5 separate regions of the Homo sapiens genome follow, and all the other regions are reported to be linked to region 1. Evidence: microRNA targets listed by miRTarBase, many of them from high-throughput screens and not tested one by one. Region 1 holds a microRNA gene; each other region holds the end of a gene's coding sequence.
What was found. The annotated mature microRNA hsa-miR-4743-3p reads UUUCUGUCUUUUCUGGUCCAG and lies in region 1 at 2,952-2,972, shown strand. An mRNA with a match to its seed (bases 2 to 7 or 8) in the 3' UTR can be bound and repressed. Matches are read on the target gene's strand: a 7mer-m8 pairs with bases 2 to 8, a 7mer-A1 pairs with bases 2 to 7 and ends in A, and an 8mer does both.

Region 1 (5,103 bases):
CAGCTGTGGGCCTAAATTCCTCGGCCAGTCTCACTTTCTCACCAGGAGCCTCCAGATTTGCTGAGAGTCACCTGGGGTCTCCCATGGATATCTGGCTCACTAGCCAAAGCCTGTCACTCCCAGGTTCCCAGGGAGTCTGAGTGCAGTGTCTGTGGCCACCTCATGGCCAGACCAGGAACTGTGACCCCCTTAGAGTCCTGCTGTAGTGGGGACACACTCCATGCGCCAGCCACTGCAGCCTTCCTGGGATGCAGGTACCACTCAGTTGCCAAGGCTCCCTGCAGCCTGTGTTTCCATGGAGGGACAGAAATCAGAGAAGGCTGTTGCCTTGGAAACCCTGTTGGCAGCAGTGACTCAGCTGGTCTGTAGCCACCTTCAGCCCTCCAAACCTGCAGGCCTCTGGGGAGATCTGAGCCCTGACGAGGGCAGGCCTCGTGGGACAGCAGCCCTCCCTGCAGGCCTCCACCTGCCCACCCCCAGGGGCGCTGAGGCGAGAACAGAAAGCTGTGTTTGGAGTGTGCTAGGCTGGTGCCCAGCGTGTGCTTGGAGCTCAGTGCATGCGAGAGAGTCCTGAGGTGTGTTTTACCCACAGGAGACACTGGGGAGGTGGTATCAGCCATTCTAGTCAAGCCAAGTCCCCAGTGCCCTCCTCCCCTATGGCCCAGGCGGGTGCAGAACACAGAAGACTACACGCAGTTGGTGCTTTCACAGGCCAGCCTGTCTGCACCAGGCAGATTGATGAGTTAAGAGATGTTTGGATGTTCCGGGCCTTTCTCCACCTGCTCACCTGTAGCCCCAGCACATCACAGTTGTGGGGACAGCCGGGGGCCGGGGGAAACTTTTTCTTTTCCTTCATGCCTGTTATACCTTGCACACCATTCCCCACCCCAGCTCCACCATGCCCCTTGCCTACCCCTTGCACCCTGACCCCTAACATGCTCTAGCCACAGCAAACTGGCACCACACATGCTCCTAACTCTAGGCCTTTGCCTGCGCCGTGTCAGCCTGGGACATCCTCCCAAATTCCCTGTGCTTGGCCAGCTCACCTCTCACCTTCCTCCTGCCCCTCGCCCAAGACAGTTCTAGACGCTGCTCCTTGGGGTTCCTGCAACGATCCCTTGTCCCCAGCGGGGCACTTGCTGCTCTACTGTGGGGGGTGATTATCCCGCCAGACACCGAGAGGGGCAGTTGTGTGCACTGTTTACACCTGGGTCCCAGACCCTGTCCAGAGCCGGGCACAGAAGTGTTTGGTGAATGGAGAAATGAGCCATCAAATGGGGCTTGGGTTAGCCCCCTGTTCTCTTCCACCCAGGCCTTTGCTGGTGTTTGCAGCTAGTTTCTCCTCCTCTGGGTTCCAGGGCGCCTCTGGCCATAGGACTTTTATGACACCGATCTCGTGCTGCCCCCAGTGGTGCTCCGGCACCCAGCCCTGTTAGAGGAGTTTAGGATTTGTTCTAAGGGCCATCCACTGTCTGAGGGCAGGAACCAAAACTGATTTTTTTTTTGGTTCACAAGGCCCAAAACAGAAGAGATGCTTGGTAAATGTTTAAACAATGAACTAGTTACTCTGAAAGGTGAGATTCGTATGAACTCTGCAGCTGGAAAATGACCCAACTCATGGGACATCTCTCACCATTCCTCAGTCAATACCAGTAATAATAGTAACTGACAATACTTACTATGCACCGGCCATGCTCCAGCCTCTGTTCTAAGTGTTTGCCTCATTTATTTAAAACTCGCCACCACCCAGAGAGGGAGGAACTGTTACCATCTTCTCTTCAATAGATGAAGCAACTAGGAGACCCAGAAATTGAGTAATTTGCATGAGGCTGGGTTGGCTCCAGAATCTGTGTCCTTAATTAATCACCCTCCTGCCTCTTTGCCTAAACAACAGCAACAATATTAGTGGTAATGAAAGTAGTCATAGTAGTAGCAATATATTTACTTCATTATTTATTTTAATTTTGTTATTATTACCAGTATTTACCATTAAACATATGTGTGTATGTTTAAGATATATTTAATGGTAAATACAGATAATAATACATACACAAGAAATATACACACACACATTTATAAACAAACAAGCTAAACATTTATATATATATATATATATATATATATATATATATATATATATATATAAGCTAGACTATATATGTGTGTATATATGTACCGTTTACTGTGGGCTGTCACAGTTCTAAGCATCTAAGCACTCCAGATACATTCATTAATTTAATCCTCCAGCCACCTTAAGATGTTAGACACTATTATCCTCATTTAACAAATGAGGAAACTCATTTGATGAAATGAGTACAGAGAGGTTAAACAACTTGTACAGGGTCCCCAGTTGGTAAGGGATGCAGCGGGGATTCAAACCCTGGGAGTCTGGTTTCGGAATCTGCACCCTTAAATATGCCAAAGATTCAGACCTCTGGCCAGGGAGTTGGGGCCAGCCTCTCTGGCCCGAGGGCACGCCCACTCACAGAGGACATGAAGACAAAGCATAGACTATCTGAGTGGGCTTGCTGGACTGACCCAGAGTCAAGCCAAAAAGGAAGGAAGCCCTATTGGGTTTTCTGCTAGCCCCTGCCAGCCTATGTGACCTTGAGAAAGTTGCTTGGTGTCTCTGTCCACTGATCTTCTGTTCAGTGTAATGGGGCAAGGTGGATGGGCTTTGACAGGAGTTGTGATGAGTAAGGAGCTTAGCTTCTCTGCCTGGAAGGAGCAAGGGGAACTCTGGTTCCTCTCCCACCTCCCTCCAGGTTGGCTGTTGCATTACGGGAGGACCCCCCCCCCACACACACACAGCTTCTCTAGGGCTGTTTCCTCTAGGTGGGACAGCCCCTGCAGGGCTTGAGGGTGGGCAGCACCAGGTATCTGCTGACTGTCCCTCCTCTCCTGCTGGCCGGATGGGACAGGAGGCATGAATGAGCCATCTTTCCAATGCCTTTCTGTCTTTTCTGGTCCAGGTGTGGCAAAGGGAAGCTGGAAGATGGGGATGGCATCAACCTGAATGACATCGAGAAGGTCCTTCCAGCCTGGCAGGTAGGTGCAGGGGCAGGCTCTCTAACAGCCCACCCCCACCCCTGGAGTCCTGATCCTCTTCCTGGACAGGACCTAACCAAAGCACTCCTTCTGGCTGCTTGTTCCAGCAAGGAGTGTAACCGCCTGTATGGTAGTAATAGGCAGGGCTGGCTACCTGCCATTCTCCAGGGTGTCCCATTGTGATCGTGTGTGTGACAGCCTACTCGGTGATGCTGCAGGCCCTGCTGGCAGGCCTGATGTGCCCTAGAGATGAAATAGACCATGCCCTGGCAACTCAGTGAACTTGGAAGTTTTTGTCCCTTGGCCTGAAACCTCTCTGCAGGTGAAGTGTCCTGTGGTGTGTTCAGGTGGGACTGGCAGGCCTGGAAGAGATTCTAATGTGGCTGGGGCTGTCTTTAGGCTTTTGAACAGTGGACTTGCCCTGCTGGCCTCCAGGTGTCTGCTATGCTTGCTCTTTTTTTTATTGATTGGGCCTCTTTCCTGGAATCAGGCCAGGTTCCAGGACAAAGAGGATTCACTCAGTGAATCCAGGTCTCTAGATACTTATAGTGCTGGACTTTTGGTGGAAACAGCAGGAGTCTAGCTGCTCTCAGGAGTGTGACTGGGCCTGCTGCAGGGGTGTAAAAGCAGTGGACCTTCCACAGTGACTGAGTCTGCCGCTGCCAGTGACCATGACCTACCACCACACTCCACTGTGCCACCCTTCCCTTCTCTCCTGATTCTTCTCCTGCTATTTTATCTATATCCATTCATCTCTTCCTGGTGCCTTTGCCATTTTGTTTCTTCTCTGTTCATGCCTTGGGCCTATCAATGAGAGACAATAGAGCATACAGTTAAGACCTCATCTATTTGATTATGATGTGCCTTGGTGTGGTGGTTTTCTTCATGTTTCTCCCACTTGGGATTTATTGAGTTTCTTGGATCTGTAGGTTTATAGTTTCATCAAATTTGGAAAATTTTCAGCCACGATTCCTCCTACTTTCCCTCAACCCTGGGGTTCCAATTGTATGTATTCTATGCTTCTTCATCTTTTCCCATGGCTCACCAAAGCTCTGCCTGATTTTTTAAAGTCTTTCTTTACTCTCTGTGTTTCATTTTGGATAGCTTTTATTGCTATTTCTTCAAGTTCACTAATATTTTATTCCAGTGTCAAATCTACTGTTAATCCCATTCAGTATATTTTTCATTTCAGACATTGTAGTTTTTATCTCTCGAAGGTCATTGTGGGCTTTTTTAATAAGCCACTGTGTCCAGCTAGAATCTGCATTTTTAAAGCATTGTAGGAAATTCTGATTATCAGCAAGAGTTGAAAACTTAAAGTCCTGGCTGATAATGCTCCTGGCTTGACTGCTCCTTGGAGTATCTACAATTCACATGGGTACCCTTAGGACAAGGTAGACAGGCTTCTTGATCCCCAAACACAGACTTTTGGTGTTTGAGGAATTTGCGGTCCTGTGAGAGCACAATGGGATGACTTATCTGAGTTTTCCTAGTGTTCTTCAAAGCCCCTCATAAATAGGGCTGGCTGGTTCACTCGTCTGGCCTTGGGTCCTGAGGGTCAGCTGGCCTAGCTATTAGCATATGTGGTGGGGACAACTCTTAATAGTATGGACGTGTCCAATGCAATGTGGGATATTTAGGACTCCTGGCCTCTGCCACTGAATGGCCGTCACTGGAGAGGGGCAGGCATAGTGACCACCAAAAACATCCTCCTACTTCCAGATTCACCTAGGAGATATTGTGCATCCAGCTGAAGGCCCCCAAATGGGAGGGAAAGCCCACCTCTAGCCTGAGGACCTCCAGCCCTCCTATGGGAGTCTTGAGCCTGTACATAGATAAGCGGGCTTCCTAGAGACTTTCTTAGACAAAAATCAGGGCTGGCCTCCCCTCCCTACCTGGAGGCAAGAAGGAAAGAGGGTGACAAAGGGAGGTTGGCCTCAAGCCCATTGCCTACCTGCCCTCCACTTCTGCACCCCAGAAGAAGAGGGGCATAAAGATCCTACCAGCTGTGTCCCCAGCATGTTCTCAACCCACAGAGGCCCAGACCCCCATCTC
Region 2 (5,103 bases), not on the chromosome of region 1:
CCGTTATTCATTTGGTGTCTTGGGGCTGTTGATGTTACAAGTCAGCTTCATTGCTTAATGTGATTGTGAGATTGCATGTTTTCTTTGTGTGCATATTTTCAACTAGGCTAGTTTGTGAAATTAGTAATGTTTTACCTGAAAGATTGAGAAATCAAAAACATCACAGCTATAAAACTGGCATTTGGCTGGGTATGGTGGCTTATGCCTGTAATCCCGGCACTTTGGGAGGCTGAGGCAGGAGGATCACCTGAGGTTAGGAGTTGGAGACCAGCCTGGCCAACAAAAAATCAGCCAGGCGTGGTGGCACGTGCCTGTAATCCTGGCTACTTGGGAGGCTGAGGCAGGAGAATTGCTTAAACTCAGGAGGTAGAGGTTGCATGAGTTGAGATTGTGCCACTGCACTCCAGCCTGGGCGGTAGAGTGAGACTCCATCTCAAAAACCCCAAAACCTGGCATTATCAACTGCAGAGTCAACCTGTATAATTTTAACAAAACAGAGCAGTATTTCTGTTCTCAATTTTCAGAGTTGGCAGGAAGATCAGTATTCAAACACTGCAGCAAGTCACACAGTGTTATTCCTTGTCACTCAGAAAGCCTCTCTCCAGCACCAAGGCCTGACTGAGCCTGCGTCTCTTCTCTTACAGGCATGACAGCAAGCGCTGTGGCGGCTTTGATCCTCATGACGTCCTCCATCATGTCGGTCGTGGGGTCCCTGTACCTGGCCTACATTCTGTACTTTGTGCTGAAGGAGTTCTGCATCATCTGCATCGTCACGTACGTGCTGAACTTCCTTCTTCTCATTATCAACTACAAACGACTAGTTTACTTGAACGAGGCCTGGAAGCGGCAGCTGCAACCCAAGCAGGACTGACGCCCGACAGACTCCACCCTAACAGTCTCAAGCCCCTTTCCATTCAGTTTATTTTGCAGCAGGTTTTTATTATTATTATTATTATTATTATTCACAACAGACACTTTCCCTAAGAATCTCAAACTGATTTTTAAAAATCCGGTAAATTAGAAGGGGCCCTCGCTATTTTCTGTGTCAGTCTTCATTTTAAATATGGATACAAAAAGGATACGCCGAGCCAATCAAAGACAAGCTTTAACTTTACTTTGAAGTGTTTCTGAAATGATAAAATGTAGCCCTAGCCCCCTGCCCTCAATTGTAAAGTGAGCAACCATTGCTAGTAATTCTTTAATGTGTATAAATTCAATTTCAGGTATAACAAATGTGATCATGACATGAAAATATTCTAGAATAGATACTGTATTAAATATTGCCATGTTTACAATATGTAATATGTTTTTAGCCGATGGATTTAAACATGTAGATTCAACTAGAATCCATTTGTGATATTTGTAAATAAAGGTAGAAATATTAGATCCATTTCTGCAGAACTTACTGTACAGTTTAGTTGGAGTGTAGCACTGAAGAACTGTCAGCTCAGCGTTGACTGAGGAGATAGTGAAAATAGCCTATACACAGCATCTTGTGAAAAGTACTGGCAGCCGTGGTTGCAGCAAATAATAGGGCAAAAAAAATAATAATAGGGTGGTCGGTTCCCTTTCATCTCCCTCTTCTGAAAGGAAAAAATTGAATTGGAACGTTCAAGTCCAGTTTGTGTTCAGTCATAAAACTGGGCCAGTTGTTAACCTTACAGAATGAGTCATGTGGCCAGACCTTCAAGTCCAAGGCCTTCAGACACTAAGGATGGGAAAATGGGTATTTTTCTTTGGAGAAAAGCTGGAAATATAAACATGGCATTTTTAGGTAAAGTTTCTTCCACTAGTTGAATTTTCATGCAGATATTTTTCCTTAACGTTGGTGCCAGTCAAGCAAAGAGTATTATGATGGAAAAGACCAGTCCAAGCCCCATCGCTCCGGAGTGGGAGCCAGTGTTCTTGCTAATTGTTTCTTTCTGCACTAACCACTCAGATGTCTAATTTAATTGTTTTGCAGTCAAATACTGGATTTGTAACCTTCAGGGCTGACATGCTGCCCAGTTTGCTTCATCGGGAGAATAGCAACAGGTAGACACATCTCAAGGCTAAATCTGCTCATGTCGCCACTGCTCTCATAATGACACACATGCAGTAAGAAGACTTTTGTAAGGGGATTTGAGTACACCCAAATGAAATTGTGACAGGATGTTTGTATGGTTAACATCTGATATCAGAATGTTAAAAGTGCCTTCTGTCTTAAATCTCAAACCAAATATTTTGTGTGTTGACCTTGGGCAGAAGAAGTGTCCTTCCCTCCTTTCTTCACCGTCAGGTAGAAAACCTGCACTCTGCAGAAGGGTCCTGTGTGATCACTTAATCCTCTGGTTGAGAAGCAGCAGTAATGTTTTTGCTTCCAACCTGATTAATCATTTTATGTTGAAAATAGTCAATGAGACCAGTATCTCTTGAGTGCTTTATTTGCCTTCTCTTTGAAGGGAGGGGACGGGCTCTGCTCTGTAAACTCAAATGTGTAGAGTCAGCAACAATTCCGTAGCTTCCAACTGACTCAGAATTGATGCAACGTAGGTCTTCTGGCCCGAGGCAGGTATCAAGTCCAAATCATAATGAACTTTTCACCAGTTTCAACCAGTTTCTTAAAAGAGAGCTTAAGTCAAGATTTCATCAAGACTTGTGTTTTCCCATGAATGTGAATCTTTCAATGGCTGTTGGAGTATGTATGTACTGTTCTTGCATTCTGAAGTAGTTAAAGAACTCTAGAAAGTACTGATTGGCCATCTGGTGTCTATGGAGAAAGAAGTCCTCACGTTTGAGGGCTGTACAGTGAGGCCATCTTGTAGCAGCGCATCCAGCTCTACCAAGGCAGTCCTCTGGTTCTTTTTTCTAAGCTACAGTGGAAATGGCCTAATGGTTAAAACTGTGGTATACATGACATCGGTTGTGCTAAACAAGTTCCTCGTGTCCCAATATCCAATGGTTTTTCATCCTATTTTGTATCAATCAACAGAGTATAGTTAAAGCTTGTCTTGATGTTGCATTCTTGCAAATGTCTTCAACTCTTACCTGAGAAAACATGGCAAAATGGTCAGCCAGACCCTTCCAGTTTTTCCTTTGCTTTTCTAAGCCTCGGGGAAACCACTGTTTCAGTTGTATAAAAACTTTTGCCACATTCCTATGGCCCAGTCGAATTAATACCCTTTTTCTCACTGAGAGAGGAACACGTACTGCCTGTCATAACAGCATTGTAATGCCAGTGTCTCAGTAACAGAATCCTGGTGGGTGTTAATTGGGTGTTTTTTGCCCTGGAGAATTCAGATTCCTTTCTATACCTCCGATTCTGCCCAGAAGAGGGGGGGAATCACCAGTGTTACAAAATTAGAAGATTGTTTTGCCTGTTTTAGACTGAATATTTGAACACTGCAGCATTACTAGCCACCAGTGTTAAAGGACAGATGAGGGGAAACATTTGTTTTTAGCAGTAATTCCATGCCTCATCTTTTTTAAGTGATTTGTTCCAAATGAAGCCATTTATTGACTTGATGTTCACAAATATCATTTGAAGAAATAACAGGAATTGGGGTTAGATGATAAATTCTAGGGAATCTAGGTGATTTGGAGGATTTCATTTGTTTTGCATTACAGCTAGTTGCTCTCACTAAAGGTAAATTTCCGGTGAAATAACTCAGGTTTAACTAGCTGTGTGCCCAGAATCACTGTTCCTTCATACATGTGTCCTCTCCTTAAATTCATTACTTTCAAATGATGTTCAAAGCATTGACTATTTTCATTCAAAGAAACTACATTCGGCCGGGCACGGTGGCTCACGCCTATAATCCCAGCACTTTGGGAGGCCGAGGCGGGTGGATTACCTAAGGTCAGGAGTTCAAGACCAGCCTGGCCAGCATAGTGAAACCCCATCTCTACTAAAAATACAAAAATTAGCCAGGCGCAGTGGCACACCCCTGTAATCCCAGCTACTCGGGAGGCTGAGGGAGGAGAATTGCTTGAGCCCGGGAGACAGAGGTTGCAGTGAGTCAAGATCATGCCACTGCACTCCAGCCTGGCCAACAGAGCGAGACTGTCCCCCCCCCAAAAAAAAAAGAGAGAGACTGCATTCAAAGAGGACCAAGACTACAGTGAAATTAAAACTGTTTGCTGGCTGGGCATGGTGGCTCACACCTGTAATCCCAGCACTTTGGGAGGCCGAGGCGGTTGGATCACCTGAGGTCAGAAGTTCGAGATCAGCCTGACCGACATAGTGGAACCCTGTCTTTACTAAAAATACAAAAATTAGCTGGGCATGGTGGCGGCACCTGTAATGCCAGCTCCTCCAGAGGCTGAGGCAGGAGAATTGCTTGAACCCAGTAGGTGGAGGTTGCAGTGAGCCACAGTTGCGCCATTGCACTCCAGCCTGGGCAATGAGTGAAACTCTGTCTCAAATAAAAAAATAAAAATAAAAACTATTTGTTGACTTTTGTTTTTCATTTAGTTTTGGAAAAGACTATTTGCAAAAGTACAGAGTTATCTTCAGCAATTACTTCACAACTTAGATTGGTACCAAGAGTGACAGGAGATCTTGTCTTGGAAGATCATTATTAGATGCCAACAAGGAGACCCACTGTGATTTCTGGTAACCTATTTGGGGAAAAAGACCTAATGACCTAATATGCAATTTCTGTCCTCGTGTCTTTTTCTCTAACACACAGTCATGGGTGAAACATTTCAGACACCTCAGGCAGCACTTATGGTTTCTAATTGTGAGAACTACCCTTCCATCAAACAAAAAGGGCAAGGGTGGGAGCCCCGGCTACTTGGTTAAACATTTTTTACTACAAATTCGCCCAGAAAAGGTGAAATATTTTGTTATAAAACTGTATTAAGCATGGCCTAAGTATTTATTAGGTATATGATCTGTGTAGTATGTTCCATCAGAAATATTTCTTACTAGTGCTTTAAGCTCCAGAGTAAACAGTCATTTAAAATGGAGTTCACTGGGCAGGTTTCCCCTTTAATCTAGATAGAAATACTCTTTATCAGAGATTTAAGGCACTGTTTTGCTAACTGGTAAATAAAACCAAATGTAAATATGTAAGAATGTTTATTTGTTGCACATAACTTTTTTGGTATAAAATAAATGTA
Region 3 (5,103 bases), not on the chromosome of region 1:
CCTGCACTGTTCTTTCTCACTCATAGAAGACTGAGAAGCCACTCCATTTTCACAGGCAAATTACAAACACACAGTGGGTTGTACCCCAAGCCCTCAAGGAAATGAGACTAGTTCTGAGGAATAATTCTCCAGGACTATTTGGGTTAAAATTAATTCAAGCAAAGAGAAACCAGTAGGGGAAAATAGTGGTATGCTTGTGTCCAATTTGAAAATGGCTTTCAGAAAGTTCCAACTACCCGATAGGAGTTTTGTTTTCTTAGACAACAGACAAGGGTCCCTGCCACCCACAGCACTTCTCTCTTAGGCTATGCAGCAGCACTGAAGCGTGCTGACTCCTTGACTCTGAGCACCCAAAGACAAGAGTCAAAGGAAGTAGATAGGGGCCATAGAGGGACAGATATGACTCATGACTACACAGGCTCACTCTCAAAGTGGCTAGATTCCAGGAAAGGTTCCCAGGAAGCAGAGGGAAGCCCCAGAACCTTTCACTCAGAGGCAAAAATAGGGTGGCTGAGTAGGGATGGGGATGTGTCCAGTAGCTGTGGACCTGCCACTCTCTTGCTAAACAGCAGTCATGTCAAAAACAGCTTAGGTTTCCAAAAGCTGATTTTGCACAGCACACAATCTTTTATGGAGACTTTAGGTGATTGTCTTAGGCTGTTTGTGTTACTATAAAGAAGTACTTGAGGGCAGGCAATTTATACAGAAAAGAGGTTTATTTGGCTCGTGCTTCTGCAGACTGTATAGGAAGCATGGCACCAGCATCTTCTTTTGGTGAGGACCTCAGAAGTTTCCAATCACGGCAGAAGGAGAGCCGGCTTGTTACATGGCAAGAGAGGACGTAAGACAGAGAGGGGAGGAGGTGCCAGGCTCTTTTTAACAACCAGATCTAGAGGGAACTAAGAGTAAGTACTCACTCAATCCCAGGAGAATGGCACCAAGCCATTCATGAGGGGTCTGCCCCCATGACCCAAACACCTCTCACCTCCAACACTGGAGATCAAATTTCAAAATGGGATTTGGAGAGGACAAATATCCAAACTATGTCAGTGATAAATAAGTAAAAACCTGTTTAATTCCTGTGTTTCAGGAATTGAAAATCACCTTGTCCTGAGCTGCTCTTTCTCAGGAAACTGATGGCTGGATACTCCTTGCTCAGCTGCTAAGCCCAAGTCCAGGAGCTTTATGTTATGGGGAAAAGGCAAGAGGACTCTGGATAAGGAGGGCCAGCATCACAGGGCCTGGCTGCACTGCAGATGGGGAGCAGGGAGTCCCTCAGTTCCCAGGAGTGAGGAAGAGCCCCACAGGTGGCTGGGATCTCCTCCATCCACAAGGCCTCCTCCCCTACCCTGCCAGCTCAGGGACCTGGCTCACTTTAAATGTGGCTTCTGGGGTTCACTCTTGTGAGTGGGACTAAGAGTAATTCCCTAAGAGTGGCAAGAAAGTCTAATGGTTATGGGACTTTGGAGCCAAATAGGTTTGGGTTTGAATCTCAGTGTTGTAGCTGTGTGGACTTAGGTAAGCTGCTAAGCCTGAGTTTATTTTCTTATCTGTAAAATGAGAATGCCACCTGCCTCATAAGGTTAAGGTCAGGATTAAATGAGATAAAGCATGCACTTAGCACAGTGCTTTTATTATGATCGTTATAAATGGAAGCCACTCCATGAAGTTTACATTGAGATTTCCCAATGTTCAAGTGAGCGCGGCACTAGAAGTTGGATAATTTGGAGCCATTGCCCTAGTGAGAAGACTCTGTATGAGAAATAGTGAGTGTGCTAATACCACAGCTGCCACCTGCTGTAATAGCATAAACATGGAGAGCTGAGGTCAGGCTAATGCATCTGGCCATCCAATGGCACAAGAGTGACCCAATGGCCCAGCGATGCGCAAGCTGGAGAGCTTGAAAACAAACACCCCAGCTCTTGTCCTGGAGACGCTGATTTAACTGGTCAGAATTGACTGAGGCCTAGGCTTCCATTGTTTTTAAAGCTTCCCAGTGATTCAAATGTACACTCAGATCTAAGAACCACAACTCTAGCTGGGAAGAAAACAGTGGAGTTTTCTTGAATCTTTTGTCATTTTCATTCAACTGGCAAACACACAATCTCTTTGATGGGCCAAGCCTAGGACCAGATGCTTGGTGAAGTCCAGATTCCCAGCCTCGAGGATCCCAGATTCTAACAGAAGACACCAACAAATGGATAGGCAATAATGATACTGTGGATGCGTCTATGACAGAGTATAGGCTGGAGCTGAGGGGGAACACACCTAGGAGGGGGTCTAACCCAGCTCTCTGGATACAGCCTGTTGGCAGAGGGGGCGTTCTGGGCCAAGGCAACAGATTTTACAAAGCACCAGAGAAGAAAATACATAGAACACGCCAGAAACTCCAAGGAATTTGGCAGAACTGGGCATGAGCACAAGGCCAAAAGATGAGGTGGGAGAGGCAGAGACAACATTTCTCATAAGGCATGCAGAGGGTTCGGGTTTCAAGCAGGGGGTGGAGTCGTCAGACTATTCTAGCAACTGGGTGGAGGATGGATCAGAGGGAGACAAGCCTGGACATGGAGAATCTGTTCCCAAGGTGGTGGCAGCAATCCAGGAAAGTTGGACATGGGATAGGTTTGAGAAGTATTCACAGAGGACAAGCTGGGTGACTGGGAGCATACTGGGGAGTCAAGGAAGAGGCCCAAACTTCTTGCTGAAGCACTCACGGGGATCAGGGCAGGAGGGAAGGTGGGGAGGAAGTGTGTGGTGGGAGCAGAGGCCTTTGGAGGAAAAGTCAATTCTTACTTCATCTGAGACCATCACATGGGCTGGTCAATTAAGCCTAACAGAAATCCTGCCCATTCTGTATTTTTCCGACTTCCATGGTGCAAGGCATTCTAACAAGTGGAATAGTTTACTAATTTGAAATGTTTTTGAGGGTTCTTGTAAGATGGCAAAGAGGAGTTTTAATTAAATGAAAGGAGCATGGCCTAGGACAGTGCCAGGCTGAGCACACAGAGCTCGTCTTCTTTCTCAGCCCAAGAATGTGGCCCAGCTCCTTTGCTTTCACCACCTGATCTGAAGATGCCTGAGGAGAGGGCCAGGATTACATGCCTAGAAATCCTTGAAAATGAAATGAAACGAGGTGAGGTGCTTGGTCCTCACCTCTGCAGAGAAACTGACACAGCAAAACCATCATGTTAACGTGTTGTGCAAGCCACACATGTCAACAGGCTTGTAAGCAGCTCCATTTATTTGAGTAAATATCTTGTAAATAAATCATTGGTAAACAATACAAAATTAAATACATTTTCAAAAGCTTGCCAGTATACGCAAAATTCACAAACATAGTTTTTTTAAAAAATAAAATATGTTCAGAGCACCCTTGATATAAAATGCCTGACCCCCATCCTTGGACAAGGCCACCTGAAGACATCTTATGGTAGGTGGGTTTCTGTGGGAGTCAGCGGGGGCCTCCTGGAGGGAAGGGTTTCTACTCTCACCTATTACCCATCCCACATTCCATCTGAATTTTGATCCTTCTCCAAAGAGCTGGTAACTGAGAGGGCTAGAGCACGCCACCAGGCCTAGCTCCAAGCACGGGGATCAGGGTGCACAATTAGGGCCAGGAGCACCCAGAGTCCTCAACACAAGCCATTGAGAGAAGCCAGAAATGCAATCTCCACACTTCCAAACCAGCAACTCAGCTCCTAGAGCAACTGTCTTGAGAGAATGTGAGGCTTTCTCACCTTGACACTTAACACTCGGTTTACTCCCACTGGTCTGATACTACCCAGGCACAGAAGCTACCAGAACCTATTTCTAAGGAAGAAGACACTCGATCTGCTAACTTTCTTTTGATCTGCTTTCCTGGAGAGAGAATAAACACAGTACTCGGTGGAAAGCAGACAATTCACTGCTACACAGTGCTTCCTTTTTCCAATGCAAAATACCACTGAGATAGTGTGGATATTTCTCTAGAAATCAAGTTAGTTCTTCAAATTAAGGGTTCATACAACTTTAAAAGACTACAAAATGAGACAATAAGCACATGACCTGGCAAAGCATCCCAACCAATGAAATAATAGAAATTCCATAAATTAAGCCCTTGACCAACTTAACATTTCTGTGGTGTAGTGCATTAAAATAACGGATACACTGAATTCTTTCACTTTGGTGCATAAAGTGAACGTTGAAGTCAGCAGCACTCAGTGAAGAATGCCTAGTGGCCTCTTGAAAACACATGTGCTGGGACCTCCAGTTAAAGGACAACCACAAGTTTATTCCATCCATGTGAAATAAAACTCACATCAACATTTTAACTTAGTTGTGTGTAGATATATACAAGTGTGAGAAATTTGACAGCTGAGTCAAATGTACAACTTAAGAAAAAAAATATTACCAAACTACTTGTAAGAAAACTATCTTCCCTGTATCATAAGGTACTGAACATCTGAGTCCTTGCAGGAAACGCAGCCTGGCGTGGCCCTTCCTTGAGTGTCCACCTCCTTTGATAATCCTTGGTTAGGCTGTGGCTAGAGTCATGATATCTTTGCTATTAAAATATTACATTAACAAAAACCTTTAAAACCAAAAAAAGAACGCTCTTGAATAAATGTCTAATAGACCCCCCCACCTTCACACCAAAAAAGAAAAAAAAAAAAACAAAAACGTTGTTCATAAGGACACCTATTCTTTCACAAAAGTCTTCATGAAGTACAAATCCCAGGACTCTTTCTTCGTCTCTGGGAGAGTTTCACCCTGTTCCAGAATCATACACTCTTCTTCTGCGGAGGGCTCAGTTTCCTCATGCCTCTTATCCGAGAAAGCAGCTCTTTGATAAATTCCTAAAAGAGATCAGAAGAAGTTAATATGAGGGTCACTATTAAAATTCTGTGTTTAAAAATCTGCTTAAAGTAATTGATGTCAACTGCAGTTAACCTTAGTTGATGAATTTGGTTGAATGTGTTAACCCCCACTGGTATAATACAGGATTTTTAAAAACAAATCAAGAATACTAAAACTTCACACCACAATGCCTTCTTATTGTTCTACTTTCTTTACGGGGGAAACCAGGCTACTTTCACTACTGACATGACCTACTTGGCCCCTGAG
Region 4 (5,103 bases), not on the chromosome of region 1:
TTCTTTGGTGTGTAAAGCCTCCGGCCCACGCACGCCCCGCTCTGACTCAGTTTCGCCTGCGGAGGACAGCAGGATCATCCCAGCCCTCAGGAGGGCCCGGAGGTGAGGAGACCCTCCCGGGAGCCCCCGCCCCCACACGCCGGCTCCGGGCTGAGCCCAGACACCCTCTGAGGCTTCCGCAGCGTGTCTTGCCGGCCCCGCCCCGAGTGACGTCACTGATTTGGTCGCGCCCCTTGGGTAGAGCGCCACCTGGCCCGGGTGAGGCGCCCGAGCCCTGGGAAATCAGTTAGTTCCACATTTACACACGGGTAAACTGAGGCCTGGAGACAGGGAATGAATCTGGCCTATGGCCCTCTTGCCTGAGCCCCCAGAACCCGGAAAGCCACCAAGGTCTGAGTGTAAAACCAACAATTCTCAGGGCCAGCTGACTATGTGAGAGAATCCACTTTTCCAGCGTATGTCCAAGCCGAGTCCCATGTCCGGATGTTGATGTTGTCCTGACCTCCTTTACCTGGGGAGCACGTCATCCTTCCAGGCCAAGCTTTGACATTAATTCCCCTCCCCTTCTCCACCCCACTCTGGGAGACCTTGAACCCTGTTCCTCGGAGGTTATCATTGTTTCTCAGTGTGTTTCCTCAGGCTGAGTTGTCTGGGAGAATGGGTAGACTAAATTTCTTTTTTTCTTTTTTTTTTTTTGAGATGTAGTCTCTCGCTGTCACCCAGGCTGGAGGGCGCTGGCTCGATCCCCGCTTACTGCAACCTCCCCCTCCTGGGTTCAAGCAATTCTCCTGCCTCACCCTCCTAAAGTAGCTGGGATTACAGGCACGGGCCACCAAGCCCAACTAATTTTTGTATTTTTAGTAGAGATGGGATTTCACCATGTTGGCCAGGCTGGTCTCAAACTTATGACCTCAGGTGATCTGCCTGCCTCAGTCTCCCAAAGTGCTAGGATTACAGGCATGAGCCACTGCACCCAGTTGACTTAATCAATTTCTGGACCTCACTCACCCCAGCCAGGCCCGCCCGGCTCAGCAGCTCAACAAACTTACCTAGTTGAATGAGTTACCAGTTCAGTGTGACCTTGGGTAACTGTGTTCTCCTCTCTGGGTCTCAGCTTTCCCATCTGTGACATAGGAGGGGTGGCATTTCTGGGTGCCACCTACACTACAACAACAGTCAGCAAACATGGTTTTTTGTTTGTTTGTTTGTTGGAGACAGGGTCTTTGTTGCCCATGCCGGAGCGCAGTAGCATAACCAGGGCTCATTCGATCCTCTAACCTCAGCCCACTGAGTAGCTGGGACTGTAGGTCCACACCACCATGCCAGGCTAATTTTTTGTAGAGACAGGGTTTAGCTGTGTTGCCCAGGCTGGTCTCAAACTCCTGGGCTAAAGTGATCAGCCTGGCTCAGCCTCCCAAAGTGCTGGGATTGGAGGTGTGAGTCACCAGGCCCAGCCGGCAAACATTTTCTGTAAAAGTTCAAATAGGAAATATTTTAGATATGCTAGACATAGGGTCTGGTTTACACACTCTTCAGTTTTTCTTTTTTCTTACAAGGCTTAAAAACTGTAAAAAAAACTCTTCTTAGCTTAAGTGCTGTACAAAACAGGTAGCAAGACCCCTGTGTAAGAGAACGCTTGCATATGTACATAACGATCTTTACGGTAGCAGTGATGTGAGAGCAAGAAATTGGAAATAGCTTAAATGTTCATCAAGAGGACAGGGGAGGCTGGGCACAGTGGCTCACGCCTGTAATCCCAGCACTTTGGGAGGCCGAGGCGGGTGGATCACTTGAGGTCAGGAGTTCAAGACCAGCCTGGCCAACATGGTGAAACCCCGTTTCTACCAAAAACAAAAAATTAACCAGGCATGGTGGCACACACCTGTAATCCCAGCTACTTGGGTGGCTGAGGGGCTGAGGTGGGAGGATCACTTGAACCCCGGAGGCGGAGGTTGCAGTGAGCCAAGATCGTGACACTACACTCCAGCCTGGGAGACAGAGCAAGACTCCTCAAAAAAAATTAAACAAAACAAAACAAAAAAAAGATGAGGGCAGGGAATAGTGAAACCCTTGGACATCCTTTTCTGAAGCACGGAGTGAGCAGCAACTTAAGGAGGTGTGGACTGGGCAAGGTGTGTCATGCCTGTAATCCCAGTGCTTTGGTGCTTTGAGAAGCCAAGGCAGGAGGATCACTTGAGGTCAGGGAGTTTGAGACCAGCCTGGACAACATAGTGAGGCCCCATTTCTCTCTTTTTTTTTTTTTTTTTTTTGAGACAGAGTTTCATTCTTGTTTCCCAGGCTAGAGTTCAATGGCGCAATCTCGGCTCACTGCAACCTCCACCTCCTGGGTTCAAGCGATTCTCCTGCCTCAGCCTCCCAAGTAGCTGGGATTACAGGCATGCACCACCAAGCCCAGCTAATTTTTGCATTTTTTAGTAGAGATGGGGTTTCTCCATGTTGGTCAGGCTGGTCTCGAACTCCTGACCTCAGAAGATCTGCCCACCTGGGCCTCCCAAAGTGGTGGGATTACACGTGTGAGCCACTGCGCCTGGCCGAGACCCCATCTCTAAAAAAAAAAAAAAAATTAACTGGGTGTGGTATCATCCATCTGTGGTCCCAGCTACTTGGGAAGATGAGGTAGGAGGATTGCTTGAGCCCAGGAGTTCGAGGCTGTGGTGAGCGATGATTGCGCCATTATACTCCAGCTTGGGATACAGACTTAGACCTTGTCTCTTAAAAAAACGGGTGGCATGAAGTGTGTAAATGACGTGGGTGACATAGAATGAAAACATCCATTAAGTGGATAAAAAGTTGCCAGAGATACGAAGGGAATGAAAAAAATCAAGGAAACACCCAGAATACCATATATTAATACATGTAAAAAGTCCACTTTAAACTCATTGCAAGGGTTACCAGTGAGATAGAGAGTGTGGGGTTAATTTGGTGGTCACAGAGATCTTTTTTTTTTTTTGTAGAGACAAGGTTTTGCTATGTTGCCCATGCTGGTCTCGAATTCCTGGAATCAAGCTGCCTCGGCCTCCCAAAGTGCTGGGATTACAAGTGTGAGCCACCGCACTTGGGAGGTCTCAAGTCTGTCTTGAAAATGCCAAATTTGGCCGGACCTGGTGGCTGGCTCATGCCTGTAATCCCAACATTTTGGGAGGCCGAGTTGGGTGGATCACCTAAGGTCAGGAGTTCGAGACCAGCCTGACTAACATGGTGAAACCCTGTCTGTAGTAAATACAAAAAGTTAGCCTGGTGTGGTGGCACGTGCCTGTAATCCCAGCTACTTGGGAGGCTGAGGCAGGAGAATCACTTGAACCCAGGAGGCGGAGGTTGCAGTGAGCCGAGATTGCACCATTGCACTCCAGCCTGGGCAACAAGAGTGAAAACTCTGTCTCAAAAAAAAAAAAAAAAAGGGGGGAAATTTTATCCTGCTTCTAAGCCTTCATACTGATTGTTCCCTCTGCCTTAGAACACTCTTTGGGGTATTTGCGGAGCTGACTCTTCTCTGTCAGGTCTCTGCTCAACTGTCCCCTCCTCAGAGACCTTTCCTGATTCCCCTGTTTCAAAAGCCACCTCCCCCACCACGGAAAATTGAGTGGCTGAAGTGTGAGAGGGATAGAGAAAGACTTCATTGTATGCCATCTTGCACTCTTTGCATTTCAAACCAAGTGAATTTATTACCCATTCAAAACTACCTGAATTAAATAAATCAAAATTTTAAAAATTGGAAAAAGTAAAAAACCCGAAGTAGCTCCCCTAGTCATTTTCTCAACACATCCTCCTGTTTTATTTTCTTCGTGACACTTGTCAGTGTGCAAGATGACTTCATTTTTTTAGTATTAATTACAGACTGGGCGGGAGAATGGCATGAACCCGGGAGGCGGAGCTTGCAGTGAGCCGAGAGAGCACCCTTGCACTCCAGCCTGGGTGACAGAGCGAGACTCCGTCTCAAAAAAAAAAAAAAAAAAAAAAATTACAGATTGCATCTTGCTATGTTGCCCAGGCTGGTCTCGAACTCTTGGGCTCAAGTGATCCTCCCACCTCAGACTCCCCCAAGTGCTGAGATTACAGATGTGGACCACTGCGCCTGGCGAGATGACTTTATTTATTGATTCCCTTGTTTGCTGCGTCTCCTGACCAAGAGGTCAGCCCCACAGTGGCAAGGATCTTGGTGGGTCAGCCTGGTTCATGACTGTGAGGCTAAGACCTGGCACACAGCAGGTGCCCTGTAACGTATTTGCTAACAGACTAGGCAAAACATGTCTTCTTGTTTTTTACAAGAAAATGTATTTGGAATCACTTATGTAAATAAAGTTTAATAATCAAAACTCTACTTCCCCTCAAAAACAGATGAGTAATAAGAAGGAAAGAGGTTATTGGACTGGGTTATCTCTCAGAATCTGTTCGGCTCTGAATATTTCAAAAACATTTGGTTGGGTTTTTTTGTTTTTTTTTTTTTTTTTTTTTTTTTTCGATTTGGGCTTTTTTCTTTTTGGTCTGGATGTTGGTGGAATTTCCCCATTCGTAAGACTTTTCTGTGAGAGGGAAGTAAGAGAAGAAGAAATAAGCATTTTGGGTTCCTACATTGGCCTTCCTTCCTTCCGCTGGTACATGTAGTTGGGGAAAGGGTCGGTTTTCTTCTTTAGTTCTGTTGAGGCCCCAGAGAAGCAAAGGATCCCCAAAGGACAACAGCTGTCAGGCCTCCATGTCCAAGGCTGAGCCCAAATGCGTGGGGTTGGACTTCCCAGCCCCATCCTGCCCCTTCTGTAACACAAAATGTGGGAGAAGGTAATGAGAAATTCTGTCTTGTCTCCTGGCACCTCTTCCTTTTCCTTTGAGGGACCACCATATCCCATCTCACAATCCATTAAGGTTTGAATGGAGTGGACCCCAACCCCAAGTGCGACCCCAGCCTGGCCAATCAGACACAGTGACTGGTCAGCATGTGACCTGGTGTGGCCAATGAGAACCAGCCCCCAAAGACCACTGCTGCAACTCCGGGGAAATTGGCAAACTTTCTCCACTGGGGAGGACAGGCTGCTGGGGTGTAAGCCTGGAGCTGCAAGTCTCCGCTACCTTAGGAGGAGACCCTGAAAG
Region 5 (5,103 bases), not on the chromosome of region 1:
ACTTCAAAGTCTACAGAGCTCTGTCGTAATTTTTTTTTTTTTATACACAACAACCAACTTGTAAGACATGCAAGTGTCATTGGCTTCATTTTATAGATGAAAAAATGAAGGCTCAGCATCTTGTTAAGGTTATACATCTAGGGAACTTCAAAGCCAGGTAATCTCCTCATCAAGGAATATACTTTTAGCATAAAAAATCTCAAGGCCTTCTTTTGAGCCCTAAAGATACCTCTTACCTTGTCACTGAACATAATGTTGAAACATGCCAAATAAAGGGATTCAGGGAAACAGGGTGTCAAGTTATGATTCAGTTTTAATTCTTGAGGGTACAGTTTTATTCTAGTGAAATCATATTATTAATAGGTTTCATCCTAGTTTGATTTAGAGGGAGAAAGAAAAAGAGAGAGTGAAAGAGATAGATAGACAAACTTTGATTTCATTTGCAATTCAGTTAAAATTTATTTTGTCTTTGAGTTTGGAACTGACAAATTAACTCCATTTTCTTCCCATTTTTTATTCATTTTAGGTCAACTCGTTTTCTTCAGAGACAGCCTAGGCACAGGCCCTTTGAGGCGTGAAGGCTCAACCTGTGGATCCAGGCTCTCCACTCTGAGCCTAGCCCTAAGGCCTTCCCCCTCATGCAGGTCATGAAAAGCAGGTGACAATAGGTGGCTGGAGGAATTTCCTATGACCTGACTCCTCCTTGGGGGTCAGAGATCTGAATGTGTCATCATAATTGGAATTTTATCTGCATGCTTTAAAACAAAACAGCAACCACTCCCCCACAATTCTGGCTCAGGCTCTGTAAGACACACGCTGAGATTTGAGGAGGTGATGGTGAGAAGTGATGCCTTCTGAGCTCAGGTGAACCAGGATGTGTTCTTCTTTTTCCTCAGATAGGGTCTGAGACTCCCAGCAGCCTTTCATCAATGACCAAACTCCAAGAGCAGGTCTGGCCTGCGGTGCAGCAGCTAACACTCATCTAGCCCTTACCATACTCCCAGTGCAGGGCTAAGTGCTTCACACATATTATCTCACCTGTGCTCACAACCCCCCTGAGGTAGCCACAAGTACCATCCCTGAGGAATCAACTCAGCAGAGTGAAGGAAACTGCCCAAGACCACACAGCTAGTAAGTTCAGGAGCTGGGATTGCAATCTAGACTCATCCACTTCCAGTGGGAAGGGGAAAAGAAGAATGGAGACAACCAATCCCCAGTGAAAGCCTGGAAGCCAGGAGCAGAGCCTTCATTGTGCATGGAAGAGAGGTGTGCTTCTAACCCAAACTCCTTCCCAGGTCTTTTATGTGAGTAAAAATATAAATTTCTGTTGTGTTTGAGCTGTTATAATATTTGGGGGTTTATTTGTTGCAGCAGGGAGCATTAGTCCAAGTAGTCCATATAGGCACCTAACCCAGCCTTGTAGGCTTGAGAAGGCCAAGTATGCTGATTCTGAAGACTAGGTAGTTGCCAACTAGGCAAATAAGAGGGGTAAAGGGGTTGTGCCTAGGCTCTCCCAGGAAGCTGGAGTTAGGAACTAAGGCCAGCCCAGTGGAGGCCAGTCTGAGATAAGGCCTCCTCAGTGGGCTCCTCCTGTCAGCCTGGCCTTATAATACATATCTCTCTCCTTCCAGGCCCTCAGCAAGAGGAAGAGCCAGCTTCTAACATGTGGTGAGTGAGCCAGAGGTAGAGGTTGCAGGCCTTGAACAAATGCAAGTGGGGGAGAAAACAGACAAAAAACAATACCACCCTGTGAGTATGTCTCCTGGTCTTATCTCCATACTGTTTCCTGACTTCTTTTCTCCATAGTCCTAATTGCCCACCATACATCACATTTAAAATTGTTGAGAACTTTGGGAGACTCTGTCAGGGAGCCACGATCTGCTGCCTGGCTCTCCCATCCTGGCTAGGCATCTGCCTTCAGGCCTGCATGAGAAATCCTTCTCCTGCCCCATCACTCTGTTCTGATTTCCAAGCAAATGTTCCCTCATCACGTATCACAAACTGCTCTGCCCTGAGGGAACTTGACGGTGGTGATGGAAAGCTCCCACTGCCTCCTTCTGTGGGGTTTTTTTTGTAAAGACTGGAGTCTTCGTCCATCTTGGCAAGAAGTTGAAGACCCTTTTCTCCTTATGTTTTGCTGTAGTCATCCTTTCCATTCATTCAAAGCTTTGCCATAAGCTCATCCCCATGGCTTTGTAGACAAAACTCCCACATCCCCCTGGTTCCCCACCAACCATCCCACCCCTGAATAAACAACAGCTCATTTGTAAGAGATTTTAATTTCATCTTGGTATGCCATTAAGGAGTGGAATAAGGATCTCTATTCATTTTCACTCACATAGTATCTCCTACATTCTCCAACTGGTCTTTACCACAGAAACCTGTGGGGCCATACAGCATCTGCATAATTTTCACTCATCAGACTGGTTTGGGTTTCTTGGTGGTTTGCATAAATTATAAACAAGAGCACAAAAATCACACAACATAGACTCTACCATAAGGGGACATGTTCCCTCTGGCCTTGCCAGAGTGATAGGGACGTGTCTCTGTGTTCAAGTCTCCAATGATGTCCCCAGAAATGAGGCCAAGCCTATCCTGGCCCCTCCTGGATGGGTCCACAGTGACCCGCTGTCTTCCCCACCAACTCATTCTGGGTTCCCAGGAGACTTCCTAGCACAGAACAATACCATCCTAGCACCGCAACTGGAGACCAGGGTGTGGAACTGTCCCCATGTACAATGGCTGCTGGGTCTTCTGTGCCGAGGATCAGAGGAGTGAGTTGGAAGGAAGAGCCAAGGGTTTCCACTGGAACCTTCTGCCTCTATGAGCGCCATGAGGTTCTTTAGAAACAGACCCTCTAAAACAAGGGGCCCCAAACTTTTTCTGTAAGGGCCAGACAATACAGATAGCAAATATTTCAGGCTTTCCAGGCCACAGACAGCCTGTTATATATTCTTCTTCTCCTTTTTTTTAATGACCTCAAAAAAAAAGTAAAAACCATTCTTTGCTGGCAAGCCATAGAAAGCAGGCCCGCAAGCAGGAGTTTGCCCAACCCTGCTCTAGAACACCACCAGGCCCTCCTCTATCCCCTCAGCCTTCACCTCCTCCCCACTCTGGGACTCTGGGATCCCTCTGAACTGCTCTGAGCTGGTGTCTCCTTCAGCACAGGCTTTGCAGAGGGACTTCAGCAGGCAGAACTGCCCTCTGGAGTTCAGGAGCCCTCCTGCTCTGCAACCCTATGTACCCTCCTTTGCCAAGTGAGTGGCCTGGTTGTATCTTAAACAAATATCAGATATTAGTCTCAGCCCTGCTCATGTGTCCTGGGAATGAATTAAGCCTTGGTGTTTCCCAGTGAGGTAGGTACATACTATTAGCCTCATCCACATTTGCAGATGCTGAAGCTCAAGAGCTGAACCAATCATCCTAGCACTGCCCAACAACCACTTGTCAGAATTTAAAAGAAAGCCCAGGAGTCTGGGCTTTACATTTTCTCAGAACATGATCAGAGATTATTCTGTCCCACCCCTGCCCAGTGATTCAACCCCAAAGAGAGCAAGAATGCAAGAGAGAACACCATCAGCCACACAGAATTTCTTTCCAGATCTGAAAGACACTCTGAAAACAGAATGAACCCCAGCACTCAAAGCTATGGGGCTAGGTGGAGCAGCCCTCTCTGCCCTGCTGACAAGTCTTGTCAAGCTAAAAATAAAGTTTATAAAAGTAAATTATCTCATTTTATAACTTAAGTGCATCAAGCATTTCCTTAAATATAGTTCACACTGAAAATAAAGTTACTTTTGCTGTACAGTTGGTGTCTGTTATAATTAGGAATAAACTTTGAGGGTAAAATACGAAAGGTTACACACTCACACACACACATCTATCTATCTGTCCTTCTGTCTATTGGTGTGTAGATGGATAGACATATGCACCTCTTGACAAGAGCTTCCCCGACATGGTGGGAAGTTGTTAGGAGTCCCTAAGTATCTAGTTTGCATGAGAATGTCTATATTAAAAGTCTCTGTCCTTAATGATAAACACGTCTTCATATCTAATGCTAAGACTCTTATTAGAAACATTAAACTATGCAATCCATAATGTATTCAGTCTTTGGAAATGCTGAGCTACACCATATCATTATACAACAGCATCCCCAACAAAACTCCCTCCCCAACCCACCTCTTCCCTGGCCTCCCTGTCCTAAAGCCAGTGACCCCTCAAAGAATATGGTTGTTCCATATGGGAGCCTAGTCACAGAACTCTAGGGGAAGACTCAAGATGTGAAGTAAGAATTCTGCATGGAGTACAGATGGTCAATGGGGTTTCCCACTCTGGACTGCAGAGGCCCAGCTTCTGAGGTTGCTAGGAAACAATCACCCAGGTTACTGAGGGAGGTGTCGTCGCTATCCAGGTCATGGAAAAGGGGCTCGGCACCTGAAATGGAGATGAAACACTGGCATGAGGGTCTTGAAGAAGTGACTCATTTCAGTGCTAGGATATTCAGCTGAATTCAACAAGTGTTGCCTGAGCACAGGCTCCAGGTGAAACTTTCTACAAAAAGTCTATATTCTCTTTAGGGGGCTCAAGTCCAAAGTGCAACAAGTGAAAACAATCTAAACCAGGATATGACAAAGTGCTAAATTGAGTGCAGCATAAGCAAATGTCACAATGTCTAGACAGGGAGTGTGGGGAGTAGGCAGGACATGTCACCAGAGGCTGGAGAGACAGGGCAGAGCTCCTATAGGACTTGGGCCTGAAAAATGATGCTTGAAGGAGGGATGGTAAAACCAACAAACAAAAAAACAAAACAAAAAGAAAGCTCTTTGAGTGAAGCTAATGAAAACTCCTGTGATAACATTTGTTCTTTCAAACACCAAGGGTCTACTATCAGCTGTTACCCCAAATTTGTAATGCAAAGAAAAGGAAGGTTAGGTGCCTACCTTCAACTAATTTACACCTTTGATAGGGAAGCCAGTAGGGCACACATTGGAACAGCTGAGAAATCACTGCAACCAGGATCTGGAGGCAAAGAATGTTCTGCCTCTGCTTCAAGTAAATAGGAGAGGTGAAAACTGGAGTTTATACAACTTGTCATGGGGCTTT

Region 2: miRTarBase lists VKORC1L1 as a target of hsa-miR-4743-3p. The part of its 3' UTR that is shown has no 7-base or 8-base seed match.
Region 3: miRTarBase lists PPP1R14C as a target of hsa-miR-4743-3p. Seed matches in the 3' UTR shown: 7mer-A1 at 4,112-4,118 and 7mer-A1 at 3,440-3,446.
Region 4: miRTarBase lists PPM1N as a target of hsa-miR-4743-3p. Seed matches in the 3' UTR shown: 7mer-A1 at 4,539-4,545.
Region 5: miRTarBase lists LMX1A as a target of hsa-miR-4743-3p. Seed matches in the 3' UTR shown: 7mer-m8 at 3,895-3,901, 7mer-m8 at 3,513-3,519 and 7mer-A1 at 2,881-2,887.

The regions. Positions count from the first base shown.
Region 1 is chr18:48,667,697-48,672,799 of GRCh38, forward strand. MIR4743 (microRNA 4743) reads left to right here and starts at 2,904; the gene lies at 2,904-2,972. CTIF (cap binding complex dependent translation initiation factor) reads left to right here. Exons shown (of 12, transcript NM_014772.3): 6 at 2,973-3,048.
Region 2 is chr7:65,953,430-65,958,532 of GRCh38, forward strand. VKORC1L1 (vitamin K epoxide reductase complex subunit 1L1) reads left to right here. Exons shown (of 3, transcript NM_173517.6): 3 at 645-5,103. The coding sequence ends at 871. Among named protein-coding and RNA genes, the nearest start is that of GUSB, 26 kb to the right of the region's middle.
Region 3 is chr6:150,248,478-150,253,580 of GRCh38, reverse strand. It overlaps PPP1R14C (protein phosphatase 1 regulatory inhibitor subunit 14C), which reads right to left. Exons shown (of 4, transcript NM_030949.3): 4 at 3,189-4,835. The coding sequence ends at 4,761. Among named protein-coding and RNA genes, the nearest start is that of PPP1R14C, 110 kb to the right of the region's middle.
Region 4 is chr19:45,501,684-45,506,786 of GRCh38, reverse strand. It overlaps PPM1N (protein phosphatase, Mg2+/Mn2+ dependent 1N (putative)), which reads right to left. Exons shown (of 5, transcript NM_001080401.2): 5 at 4,274-4,770. The coding sequence ends at 4,702. LOC107985314 (a long non-coding RNA gene) reads left to right here. Exons shown (of 2, transcript XR_007067269.1): 1 at 1-102. Among named protein-coding and RNA genes, the nearest start is that of VASP, 3.2 kb to the left of the region's middle. RefSeq lists a silencer at 1-247.
Region 5 is chr1:165,199,607-165,204,709 of GRCh38, forward strand. LMX1A (LIM homeobox transcription factor 1 alpha) reads right to left here. Exons shown (of 9, transcript NM_177398.4): 9 at 2,261-4,434. The coding sequence ends at 4,274. LMX1A-AS2 (LMX1A antisense RNA 2) reads left to right here and starts at 4,441. Exons shown (of 6, transcript XR_922234.2): 1 at 4,441-4,541.